7 linked regions of the Homo sapiens genome follow. The protein of the gene in region 2 purifies or fractionates together with the protein of the main gene of each other region. This does not show direct contact. Each region holds a gene or a part of one and is shown on either strand. Other genes may lie near its edges.

Region 1 (3,500 bases), about 130 Mb from region 2:
ACTGACTCCAAAAGACAATGGACAGCTGAATTGGAGTTTTCATGGAATGCTCATCAATGTAATCAGCAAGAACGCAGCTTCCTTAACCAGAAGTTCAACTCACCAAAGAAGGATGCCATCTGCAAGTGACTTGAAAAGACTATCATCATTGGGATTCATGGGTATAAGATGCTTACAGTCAGGGTCATTCTCCAGGGCTTTGTTTATCCAGTTAACAAAAGCCACTTTTTCTTCCTCTGAAAGGAGAAAACCTTGGTAGGCAAATCTCATTTCACAAACTTTATTGCACTATAAAAACATACATAGCTATTGCACTACAAAAACATACTTGTTAATTTCTGCTCAAAGATAATAATTGACCATTATTACAAATCTACTAAAACACAAAAGGGTTCAAGAAAAGAAGAAAGGTGGCTGGGTGTGGTGGCTCACGCCTGTAATCCCAGCACTTCCCAAAGCACTTCCAAGGCGGGCTGATCACTTGAGGTCAGGAGTTCAAGACCAGCCTGAGCAACATGGAGAAACCCCCGTCTCTATTGAAAATACAAAAATTAGCCAGGCATAATGGCACATGCCCATAGTCCCAGCTACTCGAGAGGCTGAGGCTTCAGGATTGCTTGAACCGGGGGGTGGAGGTTGCAGTGAGTGGAGATCCTGCCACTGCACTTTAGCCTAAGCCACAAAGAGAGACCCTTTCAAAAAAAAAAACGGGGAGCACGGTGGCTCACGCCTGTAATCCCAGCACTTTGGGAGGCTGAGACGGGCAGATCACGAGGTCAAGAGAGCAAGACCATCCTGGCCAACATGTTAAAACCTCATCTCTACTAAATAAACAAAAATAAATTAGCTGGGCATGGTGGCGTGGGCCTGTAATCCCAGCTACTTGGGAGGCTGAGGCAGGAGAATGACATGAACCCAGGAGGCAGAGCTTGCAGTGAACCGAGATCGCGCCACTGCACTCCAGCCTGGTGACAGAGCAAGGCTCTGTCTCAAAAACAAAAACAAAAAACAAACAAAAAAACAAACAAAAAACTGATCTATTAGGAGAGATGAAGGTATATATCTTAAATGAGCACAATATATATTTGGTTTGATTCAAAAATATTTCCAAATATGTATTGCTTCTGAAAGCTAATGAGTCAGAAGCAGACCATCGGAGGTCAAATATGTATATGTTAATTAAATAAGGAAAAAAATACAAGAAACAAATACCATGGCAATAAATCCCATCCTCCCCAAAAGGTTTAGAGAGCTGTGATTTTTAGCTTACAACAGAAATACTGAATTCAGTCAAGAGTTATTCAAATGAATAAAACAGCTCAATTTCAATGGAATTTAACTATTAAAAAATTGACACAAATTGGCTGGGTGCGGTGGCTCATGCCTGTAATCCCTGCACTTTGGGAGGCTGAGGTGGGCAGATCACCTGAGGTCAGGAGTTTGAGACCAGCCTGGCCAACATGGCAAAACCCCATCTCTACTAAAAAATACAAAAATTAGCCAGGTGTGGTGGCAGGCACCTGTAATCCCAGCTACTCTGGAGGCTGAGGCAGGGAGAATTGCTTGAATCTGGGAGACGGAGGTTGCAGTGAGCCGAGATCACGCCACTGCACTCCAGCCTGGGCAACAGAGCAAGACTCTTGTCTCAAAAAAACAAAAAACGAAGAAAAAATTGACACAAATCTAGATACCAGCACTATCTTTGGCCATCTTCATCCAACAACTTCTCAACACATGGCTTCTAGTATGGGTACATTGATCTTAAGTAGAAAATTTTGTTGGGTTATGCAGTGGGGAAAATAGGAAGGAACTTAAAGTAAAAACATTGTACAACTTTATTATTATTCTGTAGATATAAAAACCATTTAAGATTATAAATCCTTAAAGTAAATAATCCCCATTTCCATCAGAGGGTAGCACATAATGATTTGGCCTTCTCCATTGTTGCCCCAGTTCCTAGAATTAAGTAATTTTCCCAAGGGAATATTTTGCAGGTACCCCCAAAATTTAATCCACCACACATACATACACACACAAGTCAACAAAAACACAAATATGTACTAATATTTCCTCTTTGTACATATCATAATCTGCCTTATCTTCTCGCCTCCTCATACACACCTCCTTAGAAGGATTTGGAGTCTAGGAATTCAGAGATCACTAAAATACTGTATCTGCCATTGAGGAATTTTTTAGTGTAATTGTAAAACAAATATACAAAGAAATGTGATATAAGGGAAATACACACACCACCAGAAATATATATGCAATGTTTGCAGAATTTAAAAAAAGAAGCAATCACTTTTAGTTAGGGTGATCAAGAAAAGGCTTCATAGAGGAGGTACTATTTGAAATATAGTTTTTCAATAGGTGAATATAGGCAAGGAAAGAAAGGATGTTTCAGGTATAGGAACCAGGAATGAGATACCACATCACAACCACTAGGATGGCTGTAATTTTTTAAATGGACAAAAACAAGTGTTGGTGAGAATTGAAGAAACTGGAGCCCTCATACATTGCTGGTGGGAATGTAAGATGGTGCAGCCACTTTGGACCTTGAGAGCTTGTTTGGAAGTTCTAGCAGGGGAGTGCAGCTACTCGTATACCCTTGACCAAAGACCAGTCCTCTTCTATTGGGATGGTTGTCCTCTTCAACCGAGCACGCAGCTTCGGGAAGGACTCACATGGAGCACTGAGGGAGGAAGGGGACACCTGCCTAGCCAGCCAGATCAGCCAAATCAACCCTGGCAATCAATGGGGTGACAGATGTCGCAGCCAGATCGCCCTCACAAGTGCAGCCACTTTGGAAAACAATTTGGCAGTTCTTTAAAAATGATAAACATAGAGTTAACAAAAATTCAAGCAATTCTACTCCTAAGTATATGCCTACGAGAATTCAAAGTATATGTCCACACACAAATGCATTCATGAGTGTTCATATAGCATTATTTATAATAGCCAAACACTAGAAACAACCCAAATGTCCATCACCTGATGAAAGGATAAACAAAATGTGGTATTGCCCATAGAATGGAATATTCAGCAATAAAAAGGAATGAAGGGGCCAGGTACCATGGCTCACACCTGTAATCCCAAGGCAGGCAGATCGCTCGAACCCAGGAGTTCAAGATCAACCTGGGTGACATAGCAAAACCCCATCTCTACAAAAGATAGAAAAATTAGCTGGGCATGGTGGTACACATTTGGGAGGCATGGTTATGCACTTGGGAGGCTGAGGTGGGAGGATCCCTTGAACTCTGGAGGTCGAGGCTGCAGTCAGAAAAAAAGGAATGAAGTATGATATATGTGACAACATGGATAAGCCTTGAAAATATTACACCAGTGAAGAAGCCTGTCAAATGAAAGGCCACTACAGTATGATACCATTTATATGAAACTTCCAGAATAGGCAAATTTGTAGAAATAGAAAGCAGTTTAATGGTTGCAGAGCCTTCGGGAAGAGGGAAATGGGGAGTGACTGATAATGAATATAGTGTTCT
Region 2 (3,500 bases):
AAACGTAGTAATAAAACAACATGGTTTGAGAATGGAGACAAATGTATCACTGAGACAAAACAGAGTCCCAAAACAGACCTGTATATACTGTATATATAAACAGGAATTTTGTATATTATATGATAAAAGATAGACAAAGGTGACAATTAGACAAAAAGGTAGATAATAAAGATGACAATTATGAGTGAGGAAAAAATTTCTCATTCAATTTACTGTGTTTAGAAGAACTGGCTACCCTTGAGACAAATGACTACCCTTGAGACACAGGCCCACGGTACCAGTTCAAATTTGGAGAAGCAGAACATTAGAGAACGACCCCCTCTCCCACACCCCACCATCGAATCTCCAAGAATAACAGGAAATTGCAGCTGGGAGAGCCACAACAGATAGACTCTTTGGGAAACGGTACAAAGGGAAGACCCAAATCCAAGAGAGGAGACAAAAACAAGTTGCTAGAGGGGTTTGAAGTCTCTGGTGCCCACAGCAACAACAAACCTCACAGACAGCAACAACAGACTTCAAACAACAGCCCAATTCCTGACTAGATTGTTACAAATCCCTATCCCTCAGTATCTACTGGCCCTTATAATATGTCTAGCTTTAACCAAAAAGTAGAAAACATCCCAGAAGGCAAAAAACATAGTGTGAAGAGAATAAGCCATCACCAGAGCCAGACTCAAATATGACAGATGCTGGATCCAAAAGCTTGGGCATTTAAAATAATTATGATTAAAATGCTAAAGACTCTAATGGAAAAGACAGACAACATGCAAAATCAGATACATAATTTCAGGGATGGAAACTATAAAAAGACTCTAAGAGAAATGCTAAAAACCAAAAATATGGTAAAAGAAATGAACACTTTCAATAGGTTTCTCAACAAAACAGGTACTGCCTAGGAAACAGTCAGTGAACTTGATGATAGGATAATAGAAATTACACAAACTGAAAATGCAAAAAGGAAAAAAGTGGGGGAATAAACCCTATAACAACAGCATCTAAGGGCTGTGGGGCAATAGAAAATGTTACACACATAACTGGAATCCCAGAGGGAGAAGAGAGAACAAGAGCTAAAGAAAGAATTCAAAGAAATAATGACCCTAATTTTTCCAGATTAAAAAACATAACCAAAATTATAAAATAACTATATAACCAAAAATTAGTAAGAGCAATATATAGGTGATTATGTCTAAATCCTAGGAATAGCTGGGCGCAGTGGCTCACACCTGTAATCCCAGCACTTTGGGAGGCTGAGACAGGAGGATCGCTTGAACCCAAGAGTTCGAGAGCAGCCTGGGATAGTGAGACCTGATCTCTAAGAAAAATAAAGTAAATCCTAGGAGTAAAGGACTCCTAAACAAGACATAAAATAGAACTTCAAAAGGAAAAGATTAATATTTTGCCATGATAATTTAAATCCTGTGTAGCCTGGGCAACACAGCAGGACCTCATCTCTACAAAAAATTTTTAAAAATTAGCCAGGCATGGTGGTGCATGCCCATGGTCCCAGCTCAGGATGCTGAGGATCACTTGAGTCCACAAGGTCGAGGCTGCAGTGAGCTGCAATTTGCACCACTATACTCCAGCCTAGGTGACACAGTGAGACCTTGTCCAAAAATAAAATAAAATAAATCCTTGTGTAAAAAAAAAAGAGATACTGTAAAGCGATGCTGAATAAACTAGAAGAAATGTTTGCAACATACATACCAAAATATCTAGAATATATCCTGAAAATAAGAAAGAAAATGACAAACCAATAGAAAAATGGGCAGAGGTTATGAATGGACAACTCCTACTACAAACTTCATGTGGGTGGGAATTTTTGCCTGTCTGTTCACTGTTTAACTCCAGTGCTTAGAACAGTGACTGGCACACATTAAGCTCTCAATAAACAAATGTGGACTAAATAAACTCACAGCTAACTATTGCTATCAACCTTCCACAAGGCCTTCAACCTCTCTGGTAATAAGGAAAAAACAAATTAAAATATGGAGGCATTATTTTTTGTCCAAAAGATTGGTAAATATAAAAAAGACTGATATCAAGAGTTGAGGCAATACAGAAAAAGGTACCTTTACATTATTGGTGAAATTATAAATTAGTATGAGCTTTTTGGAAGGAAACTTGGCATTGTCTATTAAAATATAAATGAGCATGCTCTTCTTCCAAGGAATTCTGCTTCTTCCATTATTCATCACAGACAAATGTGTACAGACATTTTGGGAACATATATATGATGCTGATCACATTAACCCTATTTGTAAGAGCAAAAAAATAGAAACAATTCAAATAAATATAAATAGGGTAACTGTTTTTCTTTTTTTTTTTTTTTTTTGAGACAGAGTCTCGCTCTATCACCCAGGCTGGAGTGCAGTGGCATGATCTCAGCTCACTGCAAGCTCCGCCTCCCAGGTTCATGCCGTTCTCCTGCCTCAGCCTCCCGAGTAGCTGGGACTACAGGCGCCCGCCACCATGCCCGGCTAATTTTTGTATTTTTAGTAGAGATGGGGTTTCACCATATTAACCAGGATGGTCTCGATCTCCTGACCTCGTGATCTGCCCACCTCGGCCTCTCAAAGTGCTCAGATTACAGGTGTGAGCCACTGCACCAGCCAGGTAACTGTTAAAGTATGCTATATCCATTCCATGGAATATTATAACAGGTAAATAAAATCTACATGTACTAACATGAAAAACTCTGCAAAATATAATAATGTAGAATGAGGAAAGCATGTTATGGTAAATATGATACCACAACTATTTTTAAAAATCTACTGTGTATAAAGTGGACAGACTTAAGTCCTTATTTAAAACATCGAGACTTTCTAGATGTTTAGAAGTGCACAAAGTATGTTAAAAGTAGGGTAGTAAGTAACACATTTTGTAGATATCCTTTTGTTAAAATTCACTGAAATATTACCTTTTGGAAATGTAATGATCAAACCACTTCTCTAAGCAGTACACATCATTACATTTGTACTGCGTCAGGAGAAAAGGAGGAGAATAAAGTGCAAAGGGCTTTATACCAATGTGTTTACAGTGAGGCAAGATTGACCACTGTACCTTATGTCCATGCATTTTATTTTACTTTGCTATGTATATAGTGTATATGAAGGACAAATGAGCCCTAATTTACAACATCTAGTTCTAGATGTTAAAGAGGTTGACAGCGTATGACCAACGTAGAGTCAGTAACCTAATACACTGAGTACATTTTGTGTTCAAATTCATAGGAAAGACTGTTCTTAAAAACACTTAGGGAAGTGAAATTGTTAAAGTCCCCTCTAAGCACTACAAATGCTTATATCTATCCACTGAGTTGACAGGTGGGAAGGGTTCTATGCCAGAATGTTCGTTCCTATTTAGATGACACTTTCAAATGGCAGCTTATTATGTACGTGTAACATTTATTCACGTTTTCAGTTCTTAAGAAGGACTATCCTCTGGGAGTGACCTTTGTTAATTGACCTCTTAGAACTAGACATAGTCCTGTACTTAGT
Region 3 (3,500 bases), on a different chromosome or scaffold from region 2:
ATGACTTCAAGTTTTTTCTCTTTCCTCTTCTCTCCCCAGGCTCTCTTTAAACTGTGGGGCTCCCCAGACAAGTATCCCAAAGACATCCTGACATACACTGAATTAGTGTTGGACTCTCAGGGCCAGCTGGTGGAGATGAACCGACTTCCTGGTGGAAATGAGGTAATAGCTCAGCGGAGCCTAACCCCTGGCTGGAGTCACCCCCTTAAAAATATTTTTGGGCCAGGTGCAGTAGCTCACACCTGTAATCCCAGTGCTTTGGGAGGCCAAGGTGGGTGGATCACTTGAGGTCAGAAGTTCAAGACCAGCCTGGGCTACATGGTGAGAACCTGTCTCTACATAAAATTTTAAAATTAGCTGTGTGTGGTGGTGTGCTCCTATAGTCCCAGCTACTCGAGAGACTGAGGCAGGAGTGATTGCTTAAGCCCAGAAAGTTGAGGCTGCAATGAGCTGTGATTGCACCACTGCACTCTGGCCTGCGCAACAGAGCAAGACCCTGTATCTAAAAAAAATAATAATAACTAAAATAAAATAAAAAGTTTTCCCCCAAAGAAACAAACTCATTTTCCTTGTGCATTCATCCCCTTGCCAGGTGGGCATGGTGGCCTTCAAAATGAGGTTTAAGACCCAGGAGTACCCGGAAGGACGGGATGTGATCGTCATCGGCAATGACATCACCTTTCGCATTGGATCCTTTGGCCCTGGAGAGGACCTTCTGTACCTGCGGGCATCCGAGATGGCCCGGGCAGAGGGCATTCCCAAAATTTACGTGGCAGCCAACAGTGGCGCCCGTATTGGCATGGCAGAGGAGATCAAACACATGTTCCACGTGGCTTGGGTGGACCCAGAAGACCCCCACAAAGTACGTCGTGAAACTGGCGGGGCAGGGTGATTCTGCTCAGCTACTACTGTATTTTCAGTGGGAGTGCTAGCACCTGCAAGAGGTGAAAAAAATCTCACTTATGTATAAAGCACAGATGTACATGTAGTGTATAAACAGGCATACAGTGTATCAGTGATACTAACATTTCACTGTGGCGGGGGGGATGGTGATGAGAAAAAAAAGATCTAAAAAGGCTCCTTAACGGGGATAATGAAAAAAGTCTATAAACCCTGAGCTGATATACACTGAGCGCTCCTGAATGCAGTGTGCACTGAGAATGCAGAGGTGATTGTGTCAACTCCCTGGCCTCATAGCGTTCTTAGAATTATGGCTCACACCTGTCATCCCAGCAACTCAGGAGGCTTGGGTGGGAGGATAGCTTGAAGCCAGGAATTCATGACCAAGCTAGGTAACCTAGGCAGCATAGCCAGACTTCGTCTCTACTAATGAAAAAACTAGGTGAGCATGATGGTGCCTGCCTGTAGTCAGCCTCAGCTACTTGGGAAGTTGAAGTGGGAGGATCACTTGGAGCCCAGGAGTTCAAGGCTGCAGTGAGCCATGATCATCATACCACTGCACTCCAGACTGGGCAACTGAGTGAGACCCCCCATCTCAAAAAAAAAGAAAAATCTTTGGGGAGTTGTATAGATACCAGCTTGCCATAAAAGGCAAGATGAATGAGGGAAGCGCACGCATTCTGTGATGTGAAATGACAGGGGACAGTCATCCTTTCCATTCAGAGCATGCATTCTCGGGGGCGATATTGCCCACTACCCCCAAGAAGACAGAAAAATAATTTTTGGGGTGGCAATAAAATAGTTTTTAACATATATACATATACAGAGTATGTAAATAGTGGTTAAACAGTGTATCTTGAAAATTAAAATTTCATGTTGGGGTGCTGGCAATAAGAAATAAAAATGAGATAGTCCTTAGAGGAGAGCTTAGCTCAAAGCAGAACTTCAGTTTATGGCTGTTATTAATACGGTATTTACATGAGATGTGTTAATGTGTCATTGACATGTTACTAACATGTTATTAACATCCATCCCTACGATGTTCACATTAAGAAAAAAAAAACAGTGGCTTTCAGTGCAGGGAACTGGATTCGTAGCCTCACTAAAGTATTTTTTAAGGGATTTAAATACCTGTACCTGACTCCCCAAGACTACACCAGAATCAGCTCCCTGAACTCCGTCCACTGTAAACACATCGAGGAAGGAGGAGAGTCCAGGTAAATAACTTATCAGGTAGCTCCTTAATTTTGCTCATGGTTAATTTCAGCTGTCTTCTTTCCTCGGGGCTTGTGGCGATATTTTCCAGTGGGGTGGTGGTGTTTGTATGATGGGAACCAATGCCTGTTGGGGGCACTGATGCCTTAAACATTTGTTAAACTCTCCAAGGTGAGTCCATCCTTGTCATTCTAAAATGAGTGACTCCTTTCACAAAAAATAGCACGTCATGTAGGGAGAATGAGATTGGATTCTCGTGAATCTCCTAGGAGCCGCAGGCTCACATTTTGTGACCAAACTGATGCAGCGGTGACTTGGCAAACTGGGAAGGTATGGGTGGGGCAGAGAGAGGTCTGTTCTTCGAGAGCATTCAAAGGCTACTATCTTTTCCAGGACAAGTTATGTTTTTCTCAGTGGGATTAACTGACTCAGGATTTCCTAGACTGGGTTTTTTGCAATGTTAGTGACAAGCTGGGGGGAAATTCCATAGTCAGATGAGTTTGGGAAACACTGGGTTAAATGAGATCTCATAAACATCTTTATTGCAGACCTTCTTAGTACCTGTAGCATGCTGTATTAGTCAGCGTTCTCCAGAGGGACAGGACTAGTAGGATATATGTATATATGAAAGGGACTTTATTAAGGAGAATTGACTCACATGATCATAAGGTGAAGTCCCATGATAGGCTGTCTGCAAGCTGAGGAGCAAGGAAGCCAGTAGTGGCTCGGTCTGAGTCTAAAAGCCTCAAAAGTAGGGAAGCCAATAGTGCAGCCTTCAGTGGCCAAAGGCCTGAGGGCCCCTGGCAAACCACTGGCGTGAGTCCAAGAGTCCAAAGGCCGAAGAACCTGGAGTCTGATGTTTGAGGGCAGGAAGCTTCCAGCATGTGAGAAAGATGAAAGCCAGAAGACTCAGCAAGGCAGCTTACTCCACCTTCTTTCACCTGCTTTTTCTAGCCGCGCTGGCAGCTGGATGACTGGATGGTGCGCACCCACATTGAGGATGGGTCTTCCTCTCCCAGTCCACTGACTCAAATGTTAATCTCCTCTAGCAACACCCTCAAAGACACACCCAGAAACAGTACTTTGCATCCTAAAGTTGACACTTAATATTAACCATCACACATGCTAAAGTGCATTGTGAATCTCTAACAGAGGCTGGCGGGACAGTGTTTCTCATTATGTGGCCCTGGAATTTTTGATTGATTGATTGTGAATGGGTTTCCTCTGTGTACCCCCATCTCTCTGTAGACCGTTGGAGGAATATGGGCCGAGGGTGATATTTCACTGAGACAGCCCCTGAACAGGCAGATATCTTTGGTTGTATAAACCAAAAAGTATCTGAGACAGGTCTCAATCAATTGAGAAGTTTATTTTGCCAAGGTTAG
Region 4 (3,500 bases), on a different chromosome or scaffold from region 2:
GTTGAAAAATTGGGAGCTGATGCAAAAATTCTTTCAAATGTTATCTCAAAAAGCACGAGACCAAATACTCTTGATATTGGGAAGCCACCTTTAAGATCAAAAAGAGACAGTCTAGAAAAGGAATCTAGTGATGATGATACACCTTTTGATGGTTCTAACTATTTGGCAGATAAAGTGGATTCTCCTGTTATTTTTGACTTAGAAGACTTAGACAGTGAAACAGATGTATCAAAAGCAGGATGTGTTGCTACACAAAATCCCAAGAGGATTCAACGTATGAACAGCAGCTTTTCAGTAAAACCTTTTGAAAAAACTGATGTCGCAACAGGATTTGATCCCCTCTCTCTTTTGGTTGCTGAGACTGAACAGCAGCAAAAAGAAGAAGAGGAGGAGGATGAAGATGATAGCAAAAGCATTTCAACACCATCTGCTAGGCGTGATTTAGCTGAAGAAATTGTGATGTATATGAATAACATGAGCAGTCCTTTGACAAGTCGTACACCAAGCATTGATTTACAACGGGCATGTGATGATAAATTAAATAAGAAAAGTCCACCATTGGTCAAGGCATGCAGAAGATCTAGTCTGCCTCCTAATTCTCCTAAGCCAGTGAGACTTACCAAATCTAAAAGTTACACAAAAAGTGAGGAGAAACCAAGGGATAGACTTTGGTCTTCTCCAGCCTTCTCACCTACTTGCCCATTTAGGGAAGAATCTCAGGATACATTAACCCACTCATCACCTTCATTTAACTTAGATACACTACTAGTACCTAAACTAGATGTTCTAAGAAACAGTATGTTCACTGCTGGAAAAGGAGTTGCAGAGAAAGCAAGCAAATGGTATTCAAGATTCACCATGTACACCACATCATCTAAGGTAAGTTTGGTTAGTATTTGCTACTTTTACTGTCACACACACATATCCATCACCACCAAAAGCCCCTTACTCGTTTTAACTATTCTTCTAAACATAGCTTTATAAAAAGGACTCATTGGGTATGTAAGTTTTGTAAGTATCAGAATTGGAACTGAAATAATAACTTCAAAGAAAAGAAAACTTACTAAGGTTATATTTGTAGTTCAGTTTTGAAAGAGTGATTTGTAGCTGGAGTAAGAATTAGTGTCACGTGAAAGTACTTACTGAATTTCAGTATTTCCTTCAAGATGCAGATTTTTTTTCCAGATAATGTGTCCAATATGCCCTCAAAAATTACCAGTCAGGCATATGATTTGCCCTTCTGGTTAGGATGGAGTAACTTACGATAGACTTACATACCTTCCCCTAAGAGCTAAAAGCTAGATGAAATAGAGAAAGTATCTGTTTAAAGTCATCAGAGAACTGCTGAAGTAACTAGAAAGCAGAGAGGCAGGATTCTAGAGAGGTGAGCTGAAGTTCTAGAGCCACTTTCTCCCTGAGGGGATTTGCTCATTATGGGCATGAAGCACTAGGTTGTAAATCTAGGCTTTCCCTTATCAGAAGTTTTGGGAACTTGTGGGTTAGAGAGACAAAATTGAAGACTTTAAGGGCCTCAAATACACTGAAGATTTTCTTCCTTCAAGACATTTTCCAAATACTTGATACTGCATGAGAAGGGTAAGTAGAACGTCTGTGAGAAATCAAGTTCTCAGAAGTTTCATGGTACTGGAATCATAATAGCTCGATTCAGGAGCTGCCAGAGGGAGGAGGGCCTCAGTTGGAATACTTACAGAGGTATGCCTTAGGACCATTGGCAAACCAGAGGTAGACTAAGCCTGACCAAAATTGCAACCTAGACTTGACTCAGGTTATCTGTGATTTGGTTAAAATAATCAGCTTTTACTCTATCAACAGAGAAAAGATTGTACCTTTTCTGGAGAAATAAAACATCAGTTAGAATCCTTACAGTTTTTAATATACAATGTCTATCACTCAATTAAAAATAGCTATGCCAAGAGACAGGAACATAGCTAAAAAATGAAGAAAGCAGATAACGGAAAGAGACCCTCAAGTGATCCAGATGTTTGAATTAACAAGGGACTTTGAAATAATTATAATATGTTCAAGAATATAAAGGAAAAGGTTTAAAAAATAACTGTAAAGATGGAAGATTTCACTAGATAATTGGAATGTATTAAAAATAATCAAACCTAAATTTTAGAACTGAAAATGAAATAAAAAGCAAAAATCTTGAGCCAGAGAGAAGAGATGCATTACCTGCAAAGGAGCAGTGGTCTTCTGAAGAGAAACTATGATGTCAGAAGACACTGGAAAGATATCTTTAAAGTGCTGAAAGAAAATAACTGTCAACCTATTTTTCTGTACTCAACAAAAATATTCTTTAGGAATTGGGGTGAGAATACTGGTTCCACTGTGGTAACGTAAGGCCACCACAGCCCATCCTTCCCACTGATTACAACTTAAAAACCAGACAAAATATAAAAAACAACTAAGGACTCTGAAAAATAAATAAAAGCAGGCAGTTTCTGGGGAGAGACCAACACAGAAATGAGTTTATCATTTCCTTTCCTCATGCATCTTTGCCCCAAGGGCAGTCACATCATGGCATGGCACCTCTGGCAGATAAACTTCAAGAGAAACCCCATATTTCCTGAACAGAGAAGCCTGAGAAAGAGGCCTCTTTGTGCAGAAAGTTTGAGGGGAATCCCATACAAGTTTCACCCTACCCCTTGACCTGCACAGTTATGGGACAGATGCAAACTGGAATAGAAAAGGCTTAAGTAACTGAACTGCAAGTTCACTGCCTACAAAAAGTAAAACACAAATTACAGTCTGAATATAACTCAAGTGTTTGCCTGCTGAAACAAGAGCATCAACAATCTCGGAAGTATTATAACAGTACCCAGGCTACATAACATAATATTCAGTGTCCAAGATAAAATCCAAAATTACTTGGTATAAAGGACCAGGAAAATGTGACCAGTTCTCAAGGAAAAGACAACTCCAGAATGACTCAGATGTTGGAAGTATCAGGGAAAAACTTTAAAGCAGCTTCCATAACTGGTTCCTTTAGGTAAAGGAAAACACATTTGAAATAAATTAAAATAAATTCTAGCAAGAAATAGAATGTATTAAAACAAATTTTATAACTGAAATATAATCCAATGTAAACTGATCAAATGGGTTAAATAACAGAATGGAGATGACAATGAAAAGTAAACTTAAAGATACAGTAATAGAAATTAGAAGAAGAGAGAAAAGATTTTTATAAAAATAAACAGCCTCAGGGACTTGTGTGACAATATCAAAAGGAACAAATGAAATATGGATAACTGGAGTTCCAGAAGAACTGAAGAGAGATTCTGTTAGAAAAGATATTTGAAGATTTGAAAAAATAATGGCTGAAACCTCCAAAATTGGTAAAAGATACAGATTTATAGATACAAGAGACTCAGCAAATTACAGACAGAATTAAACTCAAAACCACACTTGCACACATCAAAAGTAAACTAAAAATCAGAGATATTCACCTGCTAACAAGAAAACGGCTGCTAAAAAAA
Region 5 (3,500 bases), about 130 Mb from region 2:
TGTCAAGAACTTCCTAAAAACTGCCAATACAGACTTGCAGGAGAATCTGAGAGGAGAGATTCCTACAACCACACAGTGTCAAATACAAAAACAATTTTGGGGTGATTACCAAACAGCAAAATCAAAATTATTATTTCTCTATATTTCAAAAGAAAAGATTTTTTCCTTTGTATTCATTCTTAGTTCTTCTGAAAGGTTTATATTTAAATAACACAATGGCCATAATGCAATCTTTTTCTTAGAATGTACAATCCAAAAGAAAGGAGTATAACCTTTCCTATTCACATTTTAAAAACCACTTTTTATGGAGCCCAAAACAGTATTTGATGGCAAAGGTTTGAAAAAAATGCAGTTGACCAATTAGTAACTACAAAGTGAGAATATAACCTAGCGTAAAAAACTCAAAAGCAAAATGAAACCAGATCCATCAAGACCAGAAAACAAAAGCTCTTTATTCACTGGAAAACCAATGGAGAACTAAAAATGATCCTCTCCCAAAATTTTTTAAGAGTGAAGTTTTCCACTTCACTATTATTTCAACTATATCTCTTAATGAAAAGGGGAGTGTATATGAACAAGAAACAGTATATTCAAAACTTAGATTCTTACTTTTGATTTTCTTCTTCTTCTGATTCTTCATGCTGGTCAAATAATTCCCATTTAGAAGTTGTAACAGCTGAATGAAAGGAAAAGGAGGATGTAATTCCACGAGGTAAACTAGCATTTTTTCAGTAGTACAGTGGAAGCTCAAGCTTTAGAATTGAAAAGTTTATATTACAGAAGTTTTTTTAATCTATGTTTATCAATTCTCTAAATAGTTATTTCTATATGCCAAATCTCTTTCCTCACACCTACAATATAATTCAAATTCATGAAGTGACGAATAATGTCATCCTTATTTCTGTGTTGAATATTAAGATTTATTTCATTAGAACCTACAAATAGCAACAATTAGATTATTAGCACTAGGATACAGGTCTAAGTAAGTGTGAAAGACAGGTCTAAATTGCATCTAATCAGTCTAGCATTATGGGAGGGTCAAAGCTTGGTTTCTATGAAACTGACCTCTATGTAGATTTCTACGTAGGTACAGCTTCCAATCTACATTTGCTACTAAAATGCCTTAACCTGAAAGGTTTTCAGTGATATCTCATTACTCTCAAAGCTTCCAAACTGAAGGACCTAAGAAAATTGTAACAGCAACACCAACCACAATAAAAGCATACATTAGACACAAAATATGACAACATTGAGCATTAAGGTTAAAACGTGTTATAAAACATAAAAGGAAAACATATATACAAGCACACCAATAATTAACGTACAAGTACTTAATTTAAAAAATATTTATTTTACTTTTACTCACCCTGTGCTTCCAATTCAGATTCATCCACAGCTTCCCATTTTGATGGGGCAACTTTAAATATAGGCTCATTCTTTTTTGAGTCTTCAGTTGCATCCACTATTAGGGAAAGATAAGCCATTAACCCTGACTACTAGTGGATGACCCGAAGTATTACATTCATGGGTATTCACCATATTATTAAAAAGCAAAGTAAAATAAGGACACAGATGGACAAATAGTAATACTAAGAACAAGGACTATGACTAAACCAATTCTCTGCATCTGAGGGCAATATTTTTAACAGTATATATATCAATTCAGAAAATACAGGTTAGTAATATATTAAGCAAGTGAAGAAGTTGAGAAGTAAAACAAATCTTTAATATCTTTACCTAATCTCTGAAATATAAAACTGCATACATTATTCAATATTTAAACATATAATTCAAATGTACCAAAGAGCTGTCTACAGTTCCTATTTTCAAAATGATTTTAGGCAGCTAGGAAAACTGAAGTTGTAAGTTAGAAAAACTAATAAAAACTGATAAAACCAGGTACCTAGGATCATGCATAACTGAGCACAAGATTTTGCCTATAATTTCCTGACAAGACAAAAAGAGAAACTTGCTAATATTATAGGAGGCTGATTGTCCCAGCAAAGAAATGTGACCAGAAAAAAATGCTTCTTCTTGGCCTTTTATATACATAGCATACAAATAAATGTATTACTGGGTATATGAATTTTGAAAAAAATCAGAAATAGAAAAGTTAATAACTTGATACGTTCATGAGAAACTATAACCTTTTTCCATATCAGCATGTATGGAAATTAGAGTTTTGGTCACCAAATGTATTAGCTAGATTTAATCAGTTTGAAATCTGAACTTACAAGGCACTCCATCAAGATCATCATCAAGACTTTTTATAGGGACTCCATCAAGATCATCGATGGGAGTAGCATCAATAGGAATTCCATCTACATCTTCCAGAGGTGCACCATCAAGCTCTTCCTCGATGGGGGCACCATCAAGGTCATCTGGAACATCCTATGGAAATGTGTACTATTATAACATTTTCCTTTGCTTGCTGAAGTCACATTGCTTGTAAGATTAATTTGTAATCCAGTACAAGCCAACATAACTGGATACCCACAATCTGAGGTACAATGTAAGAACATATTCTATCATCCAGTTTGCTAAAGAAGCAGTCAGTTGTGCATTTATCTAATATTTACCAAGTGCTCACTGGTGCCAGGTACCTTGTGAGGCAATGATGAGCAAAAACAAGTTTGGTCCCCCTGTTATAGAGCCTGGTAAAGGTTTTTGCTGTTGTTTTGCAGGGGTGGGGGAACCAGGAAATCAGATCATCACAACAATATATACTTATCTGTAACTATGGTAACTGCTACAGCAAAAGGGCGTATCATACTATTAGCATACTAAGTTTCACTTAAAGAGGTCAGAGAAGGCTAAGGTTATGTTTGAGCTGAGATCTGAAGGATCTCAGGTGAAGATAAGTCCCAGAAAGAGGGAAGGACATGTACAAAGTCCAATGGTAGGTGGAAACACACATTTAAGAAACTGAAACAAGGACCACGTGGGTTGCAACAGTAAGGCCAATTAGGAAGATCCTGCAGGAGTGAAAGTGAAAACATAATAGCTTGACTAGCATGGCAGAATTAAACATTAAGGATTCAGTAATTATTTAGGAGGTAAAAAAGAAAAAAAACAACAGAATGGTGATGTATATCTGCTATCATGTGATGCATCTTTTCATGCACATATTTTACTTATATAGCTATCTTTAACAAAATAAAGTCATGCTATACATATTGCTCTATTACTTGCTTATTTTCTACTATTAACAATATATCATAACTCTTATATCATTAAATAAAAAAAACACTCACCAATTTTCACATAAGGACACAAGACAGAGAATTCCTGTTACATGTAATTTTGACTTCTGGGTTCCAGCAATAAAAATCCACTACTTAATGGTAAGCAATAGATATTTTTCACAAAGAAATGTACCTCACATATGTAACACAGAACAACTCCAAGAAACCTCCACCCCAGAAACGAATTTTAAAAACAACCAGACAAATACAGACTGCCTACCTCTGTTTCCTTTTCTTCAATAATATTTACAAGTC
Region 6 (4,253 bases), on a different chromosome or scaffold from region 2:
TGGTAGGTAAAGGGCCTGGAAAACTGCGGGATTCTACTCAGTCGATAACAGACACTTCTAACCCTTCAAAGTTCAAAGTACAACACTCCAGGGGGAGCAACCTCTCTCAGAGAACTATACAAGACAGGACCTCGGAGTCTCAGCCGACCGCCTCGGTCTCAGTCGGTTTCCCTCCCCAAAGACGGGGAAAGTGAGGCAGCAGGAGAGACAAATGCCTAATTTGGACTCACGCAAGGGGTGTTGGTGGGATAGACTCTCCCCACCCCACTCGGGCAATAAGCCCGGAAGCAGTTGGATCCTGTGTCTGGGACACCTGGTCGATCTACAGAGAGAGGGAATAATTCCCGTTTCCCTTTCACTACTCCCCACTCTGGCTTTCCTGTGGATGGAGGTGTCTTCTTCCCATCACCGCCCAGAAATCCCCTCTCCCCAAGGTCCTTACCCAATTTTCAGCTCCGGCTTCCGTAGTAGGACATTCCGCTAGTTCTAGCTCCTGCTTCCTAGCCCCATTCTCTCTCTATCCCAAGGCGTTTCTAAATCTCCCCGGGGAGGTATGCCTCATCCGTGCCACCTAGACCGTAAACTCCACAAAAAGAACCCTCCTAAAGCGTCCCTTCATCTACCCTTTCTATCCCGGGCACCCCTGAGTAGGTCAGGACCCCATCGGTACCAGGAGCCACCCCAGGAGATAGATAGCTGCCTCTCACCTGGGCCCTGTTAGCCGCAGCCTCCTCAGAAGGGCGACCCCCAAGAACCTCTTCTGGTGAGGACCCCCGAAAGAGGGAACACCCTCTTCTAGGAACCTCTTCAGATCCCTCAAGCGCGGGCCTCGGTGGAAAACCTCTCGGCTGTTTCTCAGGTTCTGACCAACGCCACCTCTCTCCCGGGCCCTTTCCAGAGCCTACCCCGGCCCCAGTCCGGTCCGCCCGCCCCAGGCTCGAGCGGCTGTTCCCCTCCCTCACAGACGTCCCCAACCCTCAGACTCCCTCCCGTTCCGCGTGCCCAGGGCTCAGAGCAGCGCGGTCGGGCTGTGGCACTGACTTTCTCTACCTCCCGGGCCCACCGGAGGGAGGGGGCGGCGGCGGCGGCGCGACTCCTTTGTGACAGGTCCGAGAGAACGGCAAAGATGGACGCGAGGCCACGGCGCTGCCATTACGCGCAGAGCCCACCCCCGCTTCGTACCGCCCCAGCCCTCCCTCAGTCCCCTAGGAAACGCCCCTTCCTCGGTGGCAAGCCCTCTCCTTGACAGCCAATCACCTTTCAAAAATCGTGTCACGTGATCAGCGGGACCGGCCCGCCCTCCAGGCGCAGACTGGCCAGTCCTCATCCTGAGGCGTGAATGGCCCAATCAAGTCTCTCCGGCTCGTTTTCAGGGTACCGGATTTCCATCGGGCTCCCGGGGAGGAAGAGCTCCGCGGATTGGGTTACGTCGCCGGAAGTGGGGCGGGACTCTATTGTGGCGGTGAGGAACAGGAAGCCCTGAAGGGTCAAAAGAAATACAAAAGCAAAGGCTATTTTCTTTTTTTTTTTCTTTCTTTCATTCATTCCTTCCTCTGTTTCTTTCTTTCTTCCTTTCATTTTTTTTTCTTTTTTAAGAGCGAGCGGCTCTGCGGTGGCGGTTTGGGGTGGGCGCCGCCGAGGTGAGGTCGTCTCGCCTCCCGCGCGCCGGTAGGTGAGTGCGGCCTCGGTCCTGGCCTGGCGGCGACACCTGGGTTCCAGCTTCCTTACGGAAGAGATGAGCTGCGGCTGCTGTTAGGGTTAGGGCCAGGCCTGTTCTCAGTCCGCGCACCCGCTCCTTGTCCGGAGTAGCCGAAGCCTGGGGCTTGCGGGCCCAGCCTGAGGGGAGCTGAGGGTGCCCGCGGGAAGGCATCTGGGTCGCGGCGAGGACCCTTTCAGGCGGGCCCAACACTGCCGGGCGTTTAATGGGGTTTCCCCAATTTTCTGCTAGGTAGGGCCACCCAGGTTTCAAGTGAGTAGCAGGCTCCGTTCCAGAGGTCTTGGAACAGGTCCAGGTTACTCACTCGGATGTGCGGCGTCTGGTTGGAAATGGTTGAATCCCAGAATGGCAGTGCAGGATGGGAAGCACATTTATTGTGTGCCATGTACCAGTTGCTGTGCCAAGCGAATTTTCTATTACGGAAAACAAGCCAGCTGGCCCGTTTTGCAGAAAACTTAAGAAACAAAGAGAGTTGAAGCGTCATGCTTGAGAGTTGGTGGTCCTTGTGACTGTCAGTCCACACAGAGGAAAGGGGGAGACCTGTTTGTTCGTAGTCGTGGTTCTTTAATGTTAGTGGAAAACAAGATCTCCTGGGGCCCTTTTAAAATGCAGTTTCTCAGACTCCCGCACGCTCGGGTAGCCCGACTGGTTAGTTCAGGAGTGGGACCCAAGAAGCCAGATGCGAGCCTGGTGATCGGAATTCCCGATGACCTCTTGCCTACCACCTGTGACATAAGATTTGTCGATTCATCAGTTATTTGGTGTATTCATGTGTCCACAGGGACACCATAAAATGGAAGGCACCCTTCTGAAATATTTGAAGGGAATCAGTGGGTAGACTCCTTTTTGATACAAAGTATTGAGCCGACAGCAGCTTTTACAGTCTTTTAGTTAGATGACCTGCGAACAATTTGTAAGGATCTGAAAGTAGAGGCTGCCCGATTATCTTTCTCAACTGAAGTCTTCATGTCCTTACCCTGTGGGGAAGTGCTTCATGATATAAGAAAGGAATAATTGTGTCAAAACCATTTAGTTGATTATCAGTCTTCACTTTCATCTTCCAAGAATGGTGATGCTTGGTTAGAATCAAGCTGCTGCTTTAGCTATTGAAAACCACGTATGTGGTAAATCAAGTAACAAGTGCGATGTACGTACAGGGTCAGTCATAGTGTAATTATGCCTTTATGGCAGCTAAATTAAGCATTTTCAACGTGTTCACCATTAGTCACCTTTTGAACATACTTTGTCTTCATTCTTAAATATTATGTTTCACTCTTTACTATAGAATATGTTGTTAAGATTGTTTTGTCTAAAATCAAGTATCGACAAGTTTAAAAAAAAGATTGTTTTGTGTTTGGTTTTCTGTATTTCCACTATGCTCTATGGAACTATGGGTTTGTTTTTGTTCAATTTGTTTGGTATTTATTAGACTTCTTGAATCTGTGGATTAGTGTCTTTCATTAATTCTGTAAAATTCTCAGCCATTTTATATGCATATATTGCTTCTTCCCATTGTTTCTCTTTTTTTTTTTATCGATTTAACTAAACCTTTTCACTCTTTTCTCTATGTCTTTTACTCTGTTCTTTCGTAGTACATTCTGGATAATTTATTCTCAAGTTATTTCCATTGTTATTAAACTCGGCCTCTGAAATCTTAAATCATATATTGCAATTTTTAGTTTCTGAAGTTCTGTTTGGTTTGTGACACTTTTACAGTTTTTTATTTCTTACTATTTTGAGGCTTAATTTTATTTCTTTAAACATGGAAAGTATAGTTGTTTTTATAATCTCTATGTTTAATTCCACTGTCTGAATTCCCTTTGGGGGAGTCTGTTTCTGTTGTCCATTATTCCTGCTGTTTTACTTCCCAGTTCACCTTTACTTTGAAGCTGTAGTTCTTTTGGGCACAAGATTAAGATGGAGAGGGAGGTAGTTGTCAGACTCCACTCCCTGGATGGGCTCCTGGCTTGAACTTGTTTCTGTTATCTCATAAAGGCACTGAAACTTTAGCTTTTAGGTCAGAGAAGTCCTCAGGATGAAATCCATTTTGAATATTGGGCTTAATTTCTGGTTTTCACCTTCTAGATTGTGTCCAAATTCTTTACTATCTTGTTAGCTTTTCTATTTAAGAATTAATATTTTTGGCTGGGCGTGGTAGCTTACACTTGTAATCCCAGCACTTTGGTAGGTCGAGGTGGGCAGATCACTTGAGGTCAGGAGTTTGAGACCAGCCTGGCCAACATGGTGAAACCCTGTCTCTACTAAAAATACAAAAATTAGCCAGTCATGGTGGCGGGCACCTGCAATCCCAGCTATTCGGGAGGCAGAGGTAGGAGAATCGCTTGAACCTGGGAGGTGGAGGTTGCAATGAGCTGAGATCATGCCACTGCACTCTAGTCTGTGTGACAGAGCGAGACCCTATCTCAAAAAAAAAATTATTTTTGACAAATTTCCAGCATATTTAGTGCAGAGGTGGAGAATTGGTTTCAATTACCTAGCCCACTATTTCAAGAAATGAAAATCCCCCTGTATTCTG
Region 7 (2,767 bases), on a different chromosome or scaffold from region 2:
TTCTGAGGTCTGCATAGAAAGGCATGGAGAATAAGGGCACAGGTTTTTCTATGCGCCTTGGTTCTGTGAAGACTTTTTGGATACTGCAGTTTGGGCAGCCTGGATTGTTATCATAATACCACAACATTCTTCATCACCAATAAATTACACAAATCCCTTGGAAGTTTTCATTCCAAGACATTAAAGCAAATAATACAAGATTACTACCTAATTTTTTTAAACTCTTGGGTGATCTTCCTATACTCTCTACATATTCTTTAATATCAATGATTCACACAGAGCAGCATGAGATTTATCCATTTCAGTACAAAAACAGATAAATCAATATCAGAAAGGATCTCTTCTCTGAACATGTACATGTTGAATGTAGGTTGGGGCTGCTCAGACCTCAGTCTGCTTAGCTTCAGAAAATCTATCATGAAAATTCCTTAATATACAAAAATAATCCTTGCATGTGGAGATTTCTTAATTCTCCCTTTTCTAAGTCTTAAGAAAAACAGCCACCAGTAACTGAAAATGTCTTAATTTGTATGCGTATTCTAATTATGAAGGACCTGTCTAAAAGTTTTCTGGTAAAAGTACATTAACTGTGTACTCAAGTGAAAGGCTACTTTTAGAGTTGGTTCATGCAGATCTTTAGCTTAGTCTCCTGAAGACAGAGAGCACAAAAGTGTGAGCTCAAGGCCAAATACTTGGAACAAACAGCAGACAGAGGCTCACTGCAGACCCATATGAACAAAAGGACCACAGGAGACTCACAAACTAGATTCTCCCTAGCTTTGGAGTACATAATACTGCAATCAACTGCACAGATTCAGTTCTCCAATTTTTCCAGATTATTCTGAATATTTAATTAAAATAAAACTAAATTATTTAATTTGAAAACAACCATCATCACATCTTCTATTACATCAAAGATATTCTTCTTTTCTAAACCAGATGACAATTTCTTAGTCTGCCTCAAAGCTGAGAGAACAGTATTCAAAAAAATTCTAAAATTCCACAGGTATCAGAAATAATGTTTACAAGCCTCTGAGATAATGTCCACGACATTTCAGGTTTATCAATAAATAATATTTTTAATGCAGCTTCAAAATGATTTTTAAACAATTATCTTAGTATTTCCATAGGATTTAGATGAACTAACCAGACAATCCTGTATTTCCAACATCAAAATAAATTTCTGAATTGGAAATTTGGGAGTTTGCTTCCCCTAAATATCATATCAAGCTCTTCCTTCACACCTAGGTGGTTATTTTCAGATGCAGCCTCAATTGAATAAAATGCTTTAGCTCTTACCACCAAAAATATCAATACATTGTAAATCACCTACCAACAGCAAGGAGTAGTTGCTCTAAATTGCCAGAAGTCTCGCGGTCAATGGTTTCCTCAATTTGAAATCCTGATATAGTCATGTACTTGTCAAACACTAGAAAAAATAAAAATGATTCCCTAATCATGTAGGGATCACTCTTTCCAGAAAGATGGTATTTACTTTGATTAGGTAGTGTCTTACTGAACACAAATCTCCCCTTCTTCCTTGCTGACAGAACCTTGTGCTCAAAGCCTCAATGTGCCAAGCCCTAAGCAATGGATTGTAAATATACTTTGTTCACTGATTGCCAGCCCCCTTACGAGTTATAGCCAATGAGACCTAAAGGTAAATCTACTGGAGGGGATGCTGAGAAATCTCCTCACTTACAAAAAGTGATACACAGATAGGACTAGTTTACCCTTTTCTTTCCTTCCTGCTGTGAAATGGTTAAGTTTGGAGCTAGAGCAGACATCTTATGATAATGAAGAAAGAAAACCAAAACACTAGGGATAATGGAGCAAAAAGAAAAACCAGAAAGATCTCAGGTCCTGCCAAATCAACCATGGAATCCCACCTCTGGAAAAAAAGCCCAATTTTTAAAGCCACTATTAGGGTTCTCTGTCACTTGCACTAAATTCATTCCCAACTGATACCACAAGTGCTGATGACTATCCAGAGATAAGGTCCTGGGTACCAACCTCTAGGAGGAAATACGTGTAGTGAGCCACTATTCAGTGATGTGTGACTATGAGAGGAACAATCTAGAGAACTGACCTCCCTTGCCATCCTCCAATAGTGAAGGGTGGACTCAGGATCTCTAGTTTGTAAAAGCTACAACAGCAGCAAAAACAATGTTGAGATTTCTCCAGGTCACCAAAAGGAAGAAATACAAAAACTGATTCATTCTCTAAGTCCCTGCTATGTAGCAGGTATTCTGTCACACTGGCTCATGCACTTTCCAAATTTACCAATGTATCTGCCCCATACAGATTTTTTTCACTCACCCTTTCTCAAATGAGACACACTTCGTGTTCCAAAGATGGTGATAAACTTTTCTTCATCTGTCCCCCATTTAAGTTCTCCAGCCTGAAATAAAGCCTGCAAAAATTTCAAACTCAATTAATAAATTGTTCCTCCATCTCATTTCCAGGTTCTTAAACACACTTGTTTTTTACTCCCTGAATTTTAACTCACTTGATTCATCATCTTGTATTAATAGTTTTCATTTCTAATGTGTCCTACTCTGAAACTCAGCTCACTGAGTTTGGAGCACCTTTGGAGCTTGCCACTGAACTGTGCCACAGAAGATTCATGGGTCCAAGCAACAAAGCACGGCAATGGTGCAAGGTTACATGTTCCCAAAATGTCTGCCATAACCTCCAATCTTTCAGAAGCAACAGTATGGGTCAGGAGAAAGTTATGACTACCTCACTGTTGATACATCCATGTATA

What was found.
Region 1: the proteins of METTL6 (region 2) and PLS1 purify together in Homo sapiens (affinity purification with mass spectrometry; 3 studies listed by BioGRID and IntAct, with this or other methods). This does not show direct contact.
Region 3: the proteins of METTL6 (region 2) and ACACB purify together in Homo sapiens (pull-down; one large-scale study listed by IntAct). This does not show direct contact.
Region 4: the proteins of METTL6 (region 2) and DENND4A purify together in Homo sapiens (affinity purification with mass spectrometry; 3 studies listed by BioGRID and IntAct, with this or other methods). This does not show direct contact.
Region 5: the proteins of METTL6 (region 2) and U2SURP purify together in Homo sapiens (pull-down; one large-scale study listed by IntAct). This does not show direct contact.
Region 6: the proteins of METTL6 (region 2) and PSME3IP1 purify together in Homo sapiens (pull-down; one large-scale study listed by IntAct). This does not show direct contact.
Region 7: the proteins of METTL6 (region 2) and ANXA5 purify together in Homo sapiens (pull-down; one large-scale study listed by IntAct). This does not show direct contact.

Annotation. Positions count from the first base shown.
Region 1 is NC_000003.12:142,672,893-142,676,392, reverse strand, and holds part of PLS1 (plastin-1), read right to left. Parts: intron 237-3,500; coding exon 104-236; intron 1-103. UniProt on the Homo sapiens protein: Actin-bundling protein. In the inner ear, it is required for stereocilia formation. Mediates liquid packing of actin filaments that is necessary for stereocilia to grow to their proper dimensions.
Region 2 is NC_000003.12:15,417,545-15,421,044, forward strand, and holds part of METTL6 (tRNA N(3)-cytidine methyltransferase METTL6), read right to left. Parts: intron 1-3,500. UniProt on the Homo sapiens protein: S-adenosyl-L-methionine-dependent methyltransferase that mediates N(3)-methylcytidine modification of residue 32 of the tRNA anticodon loop of tRNA(Ser), including tRNA(Ser)(UGA) and tRNA(Ser)(GCU).
Region 3 is NC_000012.12:109,245,587-109,249,086, forward strand, and holds part of ACACB (acetyl-CoA carboxylase 2), read left to right. Parts: intron 1-39; coding exon 40-162; intron 163-592; coding exon 593-862; intron 863-2,019; coding exon 2,020-2,117; intron 2,118-3,500. UniProt on the Homo sapiens protein: Mitochondrial enzyme that catalyzes the carboxylation of acetyl-CoA to malonyl-CoA and plays a central role in fatty acid metabolism.
Region 4 is NC_000015.10:65,687,794-65,691,293, reverse strand, and holds part of DENND4A (C-myc promoter-binding protein), read left to right. Parts: coding exon 1-879; intron 880-3,500. UniProt on the Homo sapiens protein: Probable guanine nucleotide exchange factor (GEF) which may activate RAB10. Promotes the exchange of GDP to GTP, converting inactive GDP-bound Rab proteins into their active GTP-bound form.
Region 5 is NC_000003.12:143,036,070-143,039,569, reverse strand, and holds part of U2SURP (U2 snRNP-associated SURP motif-containing protein), read right to left. Parts: coding exon 3,466-3,500; intron 2,392-3,465; coding exon 2,235-2,391; intron 1,463-2,234; coding exon 1,367-1,462; intron 677-1,366; coding exon 610-676; intron 1-609.
Region 6 is NC_000016.10:57,183,240-57,187,492, reverse strand, and holds the start of PSME3IP1 (PSME3-interacting protein), read left to right. Parts: upstream 1-1,453; 5' UTR 1,454-1,672; exon of another isoform or gene 1,673-4,046; intron 4,047-4,253. UniProt on the Homo sapiens protein: Promotes the association of the proteasome activator complex subunit PSME3 with the 20S proteasome and regulates its activity.
Region 7 is NC_000004.12:121,670,214-121,672,980, forward strand, and holds part of ANXA5 (annexin A5), read right to left. Parts: intron 2,414-2,767; coding exon 2,320-2,413; intron 1,430-2,319; coding exon 1,334-1,429; intron 1-1,333. UniProt on the Homo sapiens protein: This protein is an anticoagulant protein that acts as an indirect inhibitor of the thromboplastin-specific complex, which is involved in the blood coagulation cascade.